3 separate regions of the Homo sapiens genome follow, and all the other regions are linked to region 1. The links come from fine-mapping of genetic effects on gene expression. A gene starts in region 1. Each other region holds a variant in brackets. All regions are shown on one strand. Distances are between the middles of the regions.

What was found. PIP is the estimated chance that this variant, and not a neighbour inherited with it, causes the effect. A credible set is the group of variants that fine-mapping cannot tell apart.
Region 2: its variant is the best candidate, but not a certain one, in a credible set for the expression of SYT17 in nucleus accumbens (GTEx, PIP 0.53).
Region 3: its variant is the best candidate, but not a certain one, in a credible set for the expression of SYT17 in whole blood (TOPMed, PIP 0.50).

The regions. Positions count from the first base shown.
Region 1 is chr16:19,165,696-19,169,934 of GRCh38, forward strand. It overlaps SYT17 (synaptotagmin 17), which reads left to right and starts at 2,545. Exons shown (of 8, transcript NM_016524.4): 1 at 2,545-2,966. The coding sequence starts at 2,952. RefSeq lists a silencer at 1,941-2,190 and an enhancer at 2,382-3,129.
Region 2 is chr16:18,765,135-18,769,373 of GRCh38, forward strand. No RefSeq gene overlaps it. Among named protein-coding and RNA genes, the nearest start is that of RPS15A, 23 kb to the right of the region's middle. The variant TAG/T (reference allele first, on the strand shown) is at 2,285.
Region 3 is chr16:19,226,522-19,230,760 of GRCh38, forward strand. All of the region lies in intron 7 of SYT17 (synaptotagmin 17), which reads left to right. Among named protein-coding and RNA genes, the nearest start is that of CLEC19A, 57 kb to the right of the region's middle. The variant G/A (reference allele first, on the strand shown) is at 1,632.

The DNA.
Region 1 (4,239 bases):
CTCGTTCACTGTCTCTAGGTCTCTTTTTTGGCCTCCTGGACATGGTACTATTCCTAAAGGAGTTAACAGTGGCCTGGCATGACACGCCTTGGGCAAATGACTTCATCTCTTTTTTTTTTTTTCGAGATGGGGTCTTACTCTGTCATGTAGGCTAGAGTGCAGTGGTGTGATCTCAGCTCACTATAGCCTCAATCTCCTGGGCTCAAGCGATTCTCCAGCCTCAGTCTCCCAAGTAGCTGGGACTACAGGTGTGAGCCACCAATGCCGGGCTAATTTTTGTATTTTGTAAAGAAACTTTTTGTAGGCTGGTCTTGAACTCCTGGCCTCAAGTGATCCACCCACTTTGGCCTCCCAAAGTGCTGGGATTACAGGCATGAGCCACCATGCCTGGCCAACTTCACCTCTTAATGCCTCTTTTTTTCTCACCTAAAGAGTGGGATAGTACTTGTGCCTACCTCATGGTAATCAGAGAATTAAAAGATCAAAATTTGTGTAAAGGGCTGAAAACAGTGCCTGGTACACAGACCTCAAAAAGGGTTAACTTTTTTTTTTTGAGATGGTATCTCATTCTGTCACCCAGGCTGGAGTGCAGTGGCACGATCTCAGCTCACTGCAACCTCCGCCTCCCAGGTTCAAGTGATTCTCCTAGCCTCAGCCTCCTGAGTAGTTGGGATTACAGGCACCTGCCACCATGCCCGGCTATTTTTTGTATTTTTAGTAGAGACGGAGTTTCGCCATGTTGGCCAGGCTGATCTCGAACTCCTGACCTCAGGTGAAAAAGGGTTAACTATTTTTACTTATGGGAACACCTAGCAAATTCCTCGAACTCCCTCAAGTGCCCCCAAGGAGCACCCGTTCCAATAGGCATCCTCCTCTGTGAGGCTCACTCCCCACCTGGCATGCCTTGCCATCAGTGCTGGAGAAAGATTGTGGATAAATACCACAAAGTGGTTAGGAGTGGCCACTTTGGGTTCACTGCTGGACTTGTGGGTTCAAATGTCAGTGCCCTGGGCTACCAGCTGTCAGGCCTTCATAGAGGCTTTACCTGTCTGGGCTGCAGTCCCTCATAAATTGGAGATAATCATAGCACCTCCCTCAGGAAGCAGAGTGAATAAGGCAACAAAAACAATTACTGAGTGCCTACTCTGGCTGGACAGGTGCTACCTAATAGGAGTGATCAAGGTACTGCAGGTTGAAATGAAATAACGCTTGTGAAGTGTTGAGGCGTGTATGCCTGCAGAATCATAAGCACTCAATATGCGTTACGTGCTATATGCTACAAACTAAATATATCATACTAAAAAATGTATAGGTCTGCTAGATTTTTAGACAAAAAATATATGCATCTGAATATCCATCTTTTGTTACTCCCATATTCATTTTCTCATTTATTCCCACAAATCAGCCCTGGAGGATAGGCAGGGTGGAGATTTTCTCCTGTTTTTACTGAGGAAAAAGAGGCACTGGGAGGTTAAAATTAAAATGCTGATAAGCTGGTGTCCGGCAACAGGAGATGACTGGGCATATTAAAAAGAAAACCGGCCCGGCGCAGTGGCTCACGCCCCTAATCCCAGCACTTTGGGAGGCCGAGGCAGGCAGATCACTTGAGGCCAGGAGTTCGAGACCAGCCTGGCCCACATGGTGAAACCCTTTCTCTACCAAAAATACAAAAATTAGTGGGCGTGGTGGCATGTGCCTGTAGTCCCAGCTACTCGGGAGGCTGAGACACGAGAATCCCTTGAACCTGGGAGGCGGAGGTTTCAGTGAGCCAAGATTACCCCAGTGCACTCCAGCCTGGGTGACAGAGTGACACCCTGTGTCAAAAATAAAATAAAATAAAATAAAATAAAATAAAATAAAATAAAATAAAATAAAATAAAATAAAATAAGAAATCCAGCGGAGGGCAATGTTCCACCTCGAATCTCTGAGTGGAGAGCCAGAGGCCTTGGGCTGGGAGGTTTGATGGAGGCCTCTGGGTCCAGGGCGCCCCAGCCACGAGGACAGGCAGGAGGGCGGCGGTGGACACGCCCCGGGGCGCACGCTCGCTGGCGGCCGCCTGCCCGTGGGCAGAGGAGCGCACGAGGCCGGGCACGACGCTGGGTGGCGCTGCCGGGCCGCCCCGCGCTAGACCTGTTGCGTCCAGGGCGCAACTCCGGCAGGTTTAGGGTAAAGGGGCGCTCCGCTCTCTCCGCGCGCCCCCTGCAGCCCTGGACGCAGCACCTCCGTTTGGGACGCCCTACGCCCACCTTAACTTGAGGCTCCCATCCACGCAGCCTCTGCAAGCCTCACCGCAACCGTGCTAGGCGCGTCGGGTGGGGCGGGAATAAAGTTTTTCCAACCCAGTTTGGGGAGAGGGCTGGATGGGAAGGACCCTCCCTGCTGCAGACTTCATGGCAGGCTGCACTGTGTCCCCTCGGCTCCACGGCTGCCCCGGGGGCGCTGCTTTCGGTAGGTGCCAGCCCCCGTGCCAGCAGGATGGGCTGACCTGTGTACCGCCCCCTCCCACCCCCTTCCCCATTCCCATCCCCTCCCCCGCCTCCTGCGCGCTCCGGCCCCGGCGTCTCCGGCCCCGCCTGCGCTGGGGTCGCTGCAGTCCCCGCAGCTGCCCCGGGCTGCTTGCCCAGGCGCCCCGGCCTTATTCCAGCCTGGGGAGCGCCTCGGTGGGGAGCACGGGACAGCGAGGGAGGCCGAGGCGGGGGCCCTGGGCGCCCGATATCTCCGAACCGGGGAGGCGGCCCCGATTCCGAGAGCCGGAACGCAGGGAAAGGCAAGGACGGGGCGGCCGGCGGAGGGGCGGGCGCCGCTCATCAGCCACGCCAGTCACGTCTGGGGCCACCGGCTGCCTTTTTCTTCCTTTCCCCCTTTGCTTTCTTCCCCCTCCGCTGTTGGCGAGGGCAAAGTGGCCGTGGCGGCGCCATGCCCGGGCCGGAGTGAGTGCGCGCGGGCGAAAATGGCGTACATCCAGGTAGGGCTGAGGCTGGGGGCAAGGTCCGGGGTGCGGGTAGGGGGTGCCGCGCCCCCTCCGGCTGGGAGCGCGCGGAAGGGAGGGCCCACGGCTAGGCTCCCACAAACTTGCTTCGAGAAAAAGGGTGCCCGTGCGCGGGCAACCTGTGCAGCAACAGGGGTGCGCCCCGGGAGGAGAGACTGGGGACCCCCAAACCCCGGGATGGAGGGTCCTATGTGTACTCTGCAACGCGCGCCCTTGCCTCTTGGGGAGGGAATGGGGGGTGGGGCGGACTTTTCTTCTCCCCTGCCCCCTCCCTCTCCTTGGCACCCCACCCCAGGGGAGGGGCCGTGGGGAGGGCGGCCCGGGGCGCGCCAGCCACCCGGCCCGCCAGCTGCCGTTGCCGTGGTGACGGCTCCGGCTAATTGGCCGGCGGAGCGAGCCTGAGGCAGCTGTTCCGACCAGGAGGGACAAGGACGTCGTCTCTCCTGGGCACTGGGTGCTGAGGGGTGGGGGACACCCAGAGGCCAGAGGCGCGCTGGTGAAGAGAAGGGAGCCTGTTACTTTACTCCGCTGCATTGGGGTCTGGGAGATGTGGACCCTCTTCACCTTGAAGAAACGTCCCCCAAGAATCCTTGGGCTGAAATAATTCTGAAATAATTTCTAAGCAGCCTTTTTTGGGGGGAGGGGGCGGAGGGGTGGGCCGGGCTTCTTGGTGAAAAGACCTTTCTCCTCTGCAAGAAGGGAAGTGACCGCAGGTCAGCGCCAAGGTCAAGCAGGCAGACCCGCAGTGAGACCCGTTGAGCTGCTTGCTTCTGGCGCTGGCGCCTCTGAGCTGGGCAGAGAAGCTTACAGACTCCCACGTCCAGGGTGCATCTTGGCTCACATCTTGTCCCCTCAGCCACAGCTGGGGGTGCTGCTGGTCCTCCCATTCCCCTCTGGGTCACATATCCCCTCATCGTGTCCTCAGACGCTTCAGCCTGCCGGGAACTCTGTGCTGTGTCACCTGGCGGAGCCTCTTCCATTCATCTCCTGCCTTAGATTCCCTGAATTGGCTTCCCTTTCGTGGAATCGCCAGTTTCTCTTCAAGTTCAATGAAGGTCACATTACTGTCCACCCACTGTGTGCTGAATGTTGTCCAGGGGCTATTGAGTAGTCGCCCAACAAACACTTGGGCGACCGCCTACTAAGTGCTGGCACTGGGGATACAGTGATGAAAACAGCACAGTTCCTGCCCCTCTGGGTGCGCAATTTAGTGAGAAATGAACATGATTACCGGCTCCTGGAGTTCTTA
Region 2 (4,239 bases), 400 kb before region 1:
CTGTGCCCAAAGTCAATAGACTGAAGAGCAGAAAGAGGGAGTGGACTCTTACCCCATGGCTGGCGGACATTAAGATTTATCTCTAGGCCAGGCACAGTGGCTCACACCTGTAATCCCAGCACTTTGGGAGGCCAAGGCAGGCAGATCACCTGAGGTCACGAGTTCGAGACCAGCCTGGCCGACATGGTAAAACCTCCCATTTACTAAAAATATTTTTTAAATTAGCCATTTACTAAAATATTTTTTAAATTAGGTGTGGTGGTGCATGTCTGTAGTCCCAGCTTCTTGGAAGGCTGAGGCAGGAGAATAGCTTGAACCTGGAAGGCAGAGGTTGTAGTGAGTGGAGATCGCACCACTGCACACCAGCCTGCGCAACAGAGCGAGACTCCATCTCGAAAAAAAAAAAAAAAGAAAGAAGAAAAAGATTCATCTCTAGCTTGCAAAGCCAAAGTCTGCCAACTGCCATTGAGAAGCCCCTAATCCATGAATGAGGGGCTTTAGCTTCCTTCATAGCCAGACAAGGACAGAGGAAACAGAAGAGAGGAGACGGATCAACTACCCAGAGAAGCCAGAAAACCCTCTGCCAGGGAAAATACCACTTGTAAAAATAAGAGGATTATTTGGCTGTGAAATTTGCTTAATAATTGAATAGAAAACTTATTTTGATTCCCCAGGAAAAACCCAGACATTAAGTAATGTAAATTCCTGTTCAGCCAGGAGCCAAATAAGCAGAAAATATGAATTATTAGAGTCCTCCCCAATGCCAGACCCACATTCTATTTCACAGGAAATAAACAAAGAAAAAAATTCTCTGACATGGGGATTTTTCTCTAACCAGCAAACTGTCAGAATGGGTTGGGGAGGGAACTGCCCGCATTTTCCCATCCTCCTTCCCCTCTCTCTCTCTATACCACGGCCCCTCAGAATCACTCACAGAGGACTAATCATATTCCTTGTGTCCATTTGTGAATCACTTGGATCCTCCAAGGGCTGGCGGAGGAGTGGCTCATGACCAGTCAATGTCATGAATAAGTGATCAATGTCCCAGAAGGGGGAAGCCATCAAGAAGCTGAGAATGGGCCGGGCGCGGTGGCTCACACCTGTAATCCCAGCACATCGGGAGGCCGAGGCGGGCAGATCACCTGAGGTCAGGAGTTCAAAACCAGCCTGGCCAACATGGGGAAACCCCGTCTCTACTAAAAATACAAAAATTAGCTGGGCATGGTGGCGGGCACCTGTAATCCCAGCTACTCAGGAGACTGACACAGGAGAATCGCTTGAATCTGGGAGGCGGAGGTTGCAGGGAGCCACAATCATGCCATTGGACTCCAGCCTGGGTGACAAGAGTGAAACTCTGTCTCAAAAAAGTAAAATAAAATACAATAACAAAAACAATAAATAAACAGAGAATGGGGTCAGCTCACCCAGCCGCATGTGGAAGCAGGCCAGGGCAGGATGAGGGACGGCTTGAGCAAATTTTACCTTTCACATGGTACAAAAGTGTTTTTATTTGTTCCAAGTAAATATCCAAGAGTTCAAAAAATAGTTGCAAAACATGATGTTCCCCACTCTCCTTTAAAAGTGATTAAGGCCAGGCACGTAATCCCAGCACTTTGGGATTAAGGCTCACGCCTGTAATCCCAGCACTTTGGGAGGCTGAGGCAGGCGGATCATGAGGTCAAGAGATCGAGACCATCTTGGCCAACATGGTGAAACCCCGTCTCTACTAAAAATACAAAAATTAGCTGGGTGTGGTGGCGTGCACCTGTAGTCCCAGCTACTTGGGAGGCTGAGGCAGGAGAATCATTTGAACCCAGGAGGCAGAGCTTGCAGTGAGCCGAGATCGCGCCATTGCATTCCAACTTGGGTGACAGAGCAAGACTCCATATCAAAAAAACAAAAAACAAAAAACAACAACAACAAGTGACTGATTAGCCAGGCGCAGTGGCTCATGCCTGTACTCTCAGCCTTTTGGGAGGCTGAGGCAGGATGACTGCTTGAGTCCAGGAGTTTGAGAACAGCTTGGGCAAGATGGTGAGACCTCATCTCTACAAAAAATAAAAAAAAAAATATTAAAAAATAGCTGGGCGTGGTGGCACATGCTGTGGTTCCAGCTACACAAGAAGCTGAGGTGGGAGGATCGCTTGAGCCCAGGAGGTGGAGGCTACAGTGAGCTGTGTTCTCACCACTGCCTTCCTGCCTGGGTGACAAAGCGAGAACCTGTCTCAAAAAAAATTTTTTTCATGAAAAAAACAGTGGCTGATTATACAAGCACATGTGATGT[TAG/T]AGAGTTAGCGAAAGTCCCACCTGTTTGTTTGGGTTCTGAAACTGATAGCAGCTGTTAGGATTTTCTGAACATTGATCCTGTGCCAGACACTGAACTAAACACTGAGCATGTTCACGCGTTTAATCCTCATGATAAGCCCATGAAGCCAATGCAGTGACTAAGACCGAAGCCAGGGTTTGAATCTGCCTCCTCCACACACTAGCTGTATGATCAAGTGACTTGACTTCTCTATGCCTCAGTTTCCTCTTCTATAAAATAGGTATAAAAATAGTACCCATCTTGGCTGGGAGCTGTGGCTGACGCCTATAATCCCAGCACTTTGGGAGGCTGAGGCGGGTGGATCACGAGGTCAAGAGATCAAGACCATCTTGGCTAACATGGTGAAACCCTGTCTCTACTGAAAATACAAAAATTAGCTGGTATGTGCCTGTAGTCCCAGCTACTCAGGAGGCTGAGGCAGGAGAATTGCTTGAACCCAGGAGGCAGAAGTTGCAGTGAACCCAGATTGCGCCACTGCACTCTAGCCTGGCAACAGAGCGAGACTCCATCTAAAAAAAAAAACAAAAAAACAAAAACAAATAGTACTCATCTTGTAAAACTGCTATGAAAATTATACGAGTTATATGAACAATATCTGGAACATAGTATGTGCCATAGAAGTATGGCATCATCTTTATCATCATCGTCATCATCACCACAGGCGAGATAACTGAAGCTCAAAGAAAGAAGGCTACACTATTTCCCCACAGTCCAGTTGACTCTCAGGCTCATCCTCAAGCCCTCCTTCCCCACATTCTTACGCACATGGTTGCTAGGCTGCATTCTTCAAGCCCCGTCCCTTGGATGCCTTGGGAAGTTGGAACATCACCTCTTCGCTCTGCTTTTGGAGCCATCGTGCTGGAAGGACAGCAGGCGTGGACCTCCTCTCCCTAGGCACCTACCCACCACCCGCAATGCAACCTCTTCACCTGGCACGAGGCACTCCTAGGAGCTCTCTCCAGCTTCCTCTTGCCATATTGTGTGCTTTTCGAAGAGGACGCAGACATGCAACCCCATCCCACAGCAGCCCACAACTTAAACAACAAAAGAGAACGCATCAAGCAGTGGTTTCTCCGTGTCTTTCACCACACCTGGGCACACTAACTCAGAACACATGCCCATCCACTCAGTCCCAAAGACACGACTCTTTTTTTTTTTTTTTAACTCTGTGCCTATGCTTACCCAAAGACAATACCGTTCTTCTTTCTTTTTTTTTTGTTTTAAACAAAAAAAAAAAGACAAAGTCTCGTTCTGTCGCCCAGGCTGGAGTGCAGTGGTGCCATCTCGGCTCGCTGCAGCCTCTGCATCCCTGGGCTGAAGCGATTCTCCTGCCTCAGCCTCTCGAGTAGCTGGGATTACAGGCGTGCACCACCACACCTGGCTAATTTTTGTTTTTTGTTTCTTTAGGTTTTTTATTTTTATTTATTTATTTATTTATTTTTTTCTTGAGACAGAGTCTCACTCTGTCCCCGAGGCCAGAGTGCAATGGCATGATCTCAGCTCACTGCAACCTCTGCCTCCCAGGTTCAAGCGATTCTCCTGCCTCAGCCTCCCAAGTAGCTGGGAATACAGGCATGCACCACCACGCCCAGTTTTTGTTTTGTTTGTTTTTTTTTGTTTGTTTTATTTTTTGGTATTTTTAGTAGAGACGGGGTTTCCCATGTTGACCAGGCTAGTCTTGAACTCCTGACCTCAGGTGATCCACCAGCCTCAGCCTCCAAAAAGGCTGGGATTACAGGAGCGAGCCACACAGCACCCCACCTAATTTTTGTATTTTTAGTAGAGACAGGGTTTCACCATGTTGGCCAGGCTGGTCTCGAACTCCTGATCTCAGGTGATCCACTTGCCTTGGCCTCCCAAAGTGCTGGGATTACAGGTGGGAGCCACCATGCCCAGCAAAGACTGTTCTTCCT
Region 3 (4,239 bases), 61 kb after region 1:
CTGTCACCCATAGAGTCTGCGTTGAATCAGGGGATGCCTGCCATATGCAGATATAATGATCCCTTCTAATGCAGTCTGTGATGGCTGCTGTCCGGATGGAGTTACAAATAGACAAGGGCCTCACTCTCTCCTAGGTTTCAGGCCAAGACAGAAGACCGTCACCCCTGACTCCTTAAATGGTGGACAGGCAGGTAGTGGGGCCTATTGTATATTAAACCAAGACACAGATAAAAAATGAAGTCTCTTTTCCCAAGTCCCTGCTGAGAATAAGGGACCTCCTATTGTAAGCTTAGATGAGGAGAGGACCCCAGGGGAAACTGAGAGCCCCCATGGAAAGCCCTGACACTTCATATTTTACTTAACATTTTATGATAAATGTAGCACACACGTGTTATAATGAGTGACACCATGAAAAGATGTGTAAGGACAGAGAATCAGAGGAGAACAGGGGTTATGTGCCTGTGCTGGGGAGCTGATGTCTGGGTCCTGGCTTTACCACTCACCTACTTTGGTGACCCTGGGCAAGATCTGCGTGCTTAGGTTTTCTCAGCTGTAAAATGGGGATAACAATACAGGACACTTCACAGGATTGTTATTTGCATTCAGTGAGATCAATAAACACACGGTGCTGAGCACTGTGCCACCCATAGTAAGCACTCTAGAACTGTTAACTGTTATTAAAGGGAAAGTTTAGTGTTTTCCTTTTTTCTCCCACACACATGGGGCAGCCACCACCTTCTCACTCCCTCATGCAGTTTTGTTTATTTCAGAGTGTTTTCTTGCTGTGTAATCCTTCTCCCCGCTTTTTTTTTTTTGAGACAATCTCATTCTGATGCCCAGCTGGAGTGCCATGGCATGATCTCGGCTCACTGCAAGCTCTACCTCCCAGGCTCAAGCAATTCTCGTGCCTCAGCCTCCTCAGTACTTGGGATTATAGGTGCACGCCACCATGCCTGGATAATTTTTTGTATTTTTTGTAGAGACGGGGTTTTACCATGTTGGCCAGGCCAGTCTCAAACTCCTGACCTCAAGCAATCTGCCCACCTCGGCCTCCCAAAGTGCTGGGATTACAGGCATGAGCCACCACGCCTGGCCTAATGTCTTCCTTTAATGCCTTCCCCTTTCCAGTTCCTTCTCCCTGAAGTCATGCCTTTAATGTTCTGCTGTGTAGCATTCCACACTTTTTTCCTTGTTCACACAAACAATATCCACATACAGAGGGTTCTGTTCCTTTAAAACATTATTCATGAATTCAGCAAGTGTGTATTAAACACCTTCTGTGCCAGGCAGTGCTTCCAAGTTCTGGGAATAGAGCAGTGAACAAAACAGACCTAATCCCTGCCCTGGCGGAGCTTACCAGGACATTCCATGGATACCACACTGACACTTGCTTTGGTTTAATTAACAATGAATGTGTTCGTTGCCTTCAGATCAATATGAATACAAATGGATTTAACTTTTCATTTTTAATAACTGCATTAGATACTGTTGCATGATGTAGTATGATAAAAGCTGAGGTTATTTATTCTGGGGGTGGGGGGGTATGACAGAACTTCAGGGATTGTGATTAGAACTCCAGAAAAATACATGGAAGTATGGAAAATTTTGCATATAGTTGCAGAGGTTTTTTC[G/A]AATTCCTTGAATTCCATATGGTTACCTCATAAGGCTCAAACTACAAGGGTAGCCACACCACACCCCCTCTCCATACATCTTTTATTCAACCCACGGCACTTCAGGTGGCAACTGTCAGCTGGGGCAGTGGTCAGCTGATGCTGTCAGGGAAGTCCTGTACTCTCCATTCACAGAAGACCCGCTTCTCTCCTGTAAGTTTTGGGGCCCTGACTTGGAAGTTCAGGCTCCTCTGGTTAAAAGCTCGTTGAAAATATTCTTTCTGGAGAAGGAAGCATTGCCTGCCTGCCCCCTTAAATCAGGGATTCTCAACCCTGGCTGTACCTTAGAATTACCTGAGAGCTTTAAAATGCTACCAATGGCTGCACTGCATTCCGCAGAGACTCTAAAGCAACTGGACTAGGCTGAGGCACTGAGCATCTATAAGTAGCTATTTTTTAAAAACACCCCAGATATTTCTATTGCTCATTCATTGTTCCGAACCACAGCTGTGAGTGGAAATCCCAGCTAGGGTGGCAATTTACATAAAGGGTACTGGCTGGAATAATATGAGAAAGGTGTCTTAAGCCAGTATGTATCTCAGCAAAGCTACAGTTCTCCTGAACTCAGATTCATAAGGTTCTAACCTGCTTTATTTGTCCACTGAGAGAAAGAGCTGTCACCTCTAGGCCGAGGAACCAAAGCCCAGCCTATTAGCATGTTTCCAAACACTTCATAACAAAAGTAAGGTTGGTCTGCAATTTAGCATTTGCCGTGAATCCCTGGTAAAAGCCTGTAATTAGCTGGTAAGCTGGACTTTCTGAACACTTGTTTTCCTGTGTGGGAGGAGGATTTGTCTGCAATTTTCTATCAGGTGGTTTCTGCAGCTGAAGTTTAAAAATAAAAAATGAAAAGAGGGGTAAAATTGCTTTTCACCGCCCAAGATAGCAACACACAGCCCAGAGGGCTTCCAGGAAATTCAGGAAGGTTTACTGAACCAAAGTAAAGTGGAGCTGGCCACTGAGGTGATTGGGCTTTTACTGGATGTTGGGAAAAAGAAGGAAAGAAAGCGTATTAGTCCGTTCTCGCATTGTTACAATGAAATACCGAAGACTGGGTAATTTATAAAGAAAAGAGTTTAATTGGCTCATGGGTCCTCAGGCTGTACAGGAAGCATGAGGCTGGCATCTGCTTGGCTTCCCAGGAGGCCTCAGGAAACGTACAATCATGGAGGAAGGGAAAGAGGGATCGTGCACCTGACATGGCCAGAGCAGGAGGAAGAGAGTGAAGGGGGAGGTGCCACACACTTTTAAACAAGCAGATCTCAGGAGAACTCACTCACTATATAGTACCAAGGGAGATGATGCTAAACCATTCATGAGAAATCCACTCTTATGATCCATCACCTCCCACCAGGCCCCACCTCCAACATTAGTGTTTACAATTTCACATGAGATTTGGGTGGGGACACAGAGGCAAACCATATCAGAAAGGCAGAAAAAAGAAATGCAGCTTGATGGCAAATCTTCAAAAAGTTAAAAATAGAATTAGCATGTGATCTAGCAATTGCACTTGTAGGTATATACCCAAAAGAATTGAAAGCAGGGACTCAAACTCTTATTTGTACACCTACGTTCATAGCAGCTTTCCTTACAACCACCAACAGGTGGAAGCAACCTGAACATGCATCGACAGATAAATGGGTAAACAAAGTGGTGCATACATACAATGGAATATTACTCAGTCTTGAGTAGGAAGGAAATTCTGACCCATGCTACAACATGGATGAAGCTGGAAGACATTATGCTAAGTGAAACAAGCCAGATATGAGAGGACAAATGCCGTATCATTTCATTTATGTGAAATACCTAGAGTAGTCAAACTCATAGACAGAAAATAGAATAGAGATTATCAGGGGCTGGGGGAAGGACAGGATGGGGAGTTATTATTTAATGGGTGCAGACTTTCATTTGGGGAAGATAAGAAAAGTTCTGGAGGCCAGGCATGGTGGCCTGTTCCTGTAATCCCAGCACTTTGGGAGGCCGAAGTGGGTGGATCACCTGAGGTGAGGAGTTTGAGACCAGCCTGGCCAATATGGTGAAACCCCATCTCTATAAAAATACAAAAATTAGCCAGGCGTGGTAGTGAGCACCTGTAATTCCAGCTACTCGGGAGGCTGAGGTAGGAGAATCACTTGAACCTGGGAGGCAGAGGTTGCAATGAGCCGAGATCACGCCATTGCACTCCAGCCTGGGCAACAAGAGTGAAACTCTTTAAAAAAAAAAAAAAATTCTGGAGATGGATGGTTGTGATGGTTACACAACACTGTGAATATACTTAATGCCACTGAACTGTATACCTAAAAATGGTTACTTTTATGTTACACGTATTTTGCTATAATTAGAAGGAAAGAAAAAATAAGTAAATGAAGCTTCAGCCCGGCAGATCCTGAGCAATTCAGAGAAGTACCTGGATGCTGATGCTGGAACCTGGAATACTGTTCTTTTCCCTGAGAAAAGAATGTTCTTTCATTGCCACTTTGAGGGAATAGTTAGGCGTAATAGTTAGGAACCAGACCTTTAGCTTGGGTTCATATTTGTGACTTACTTGCTGTGTAATCTTGGCACTTTG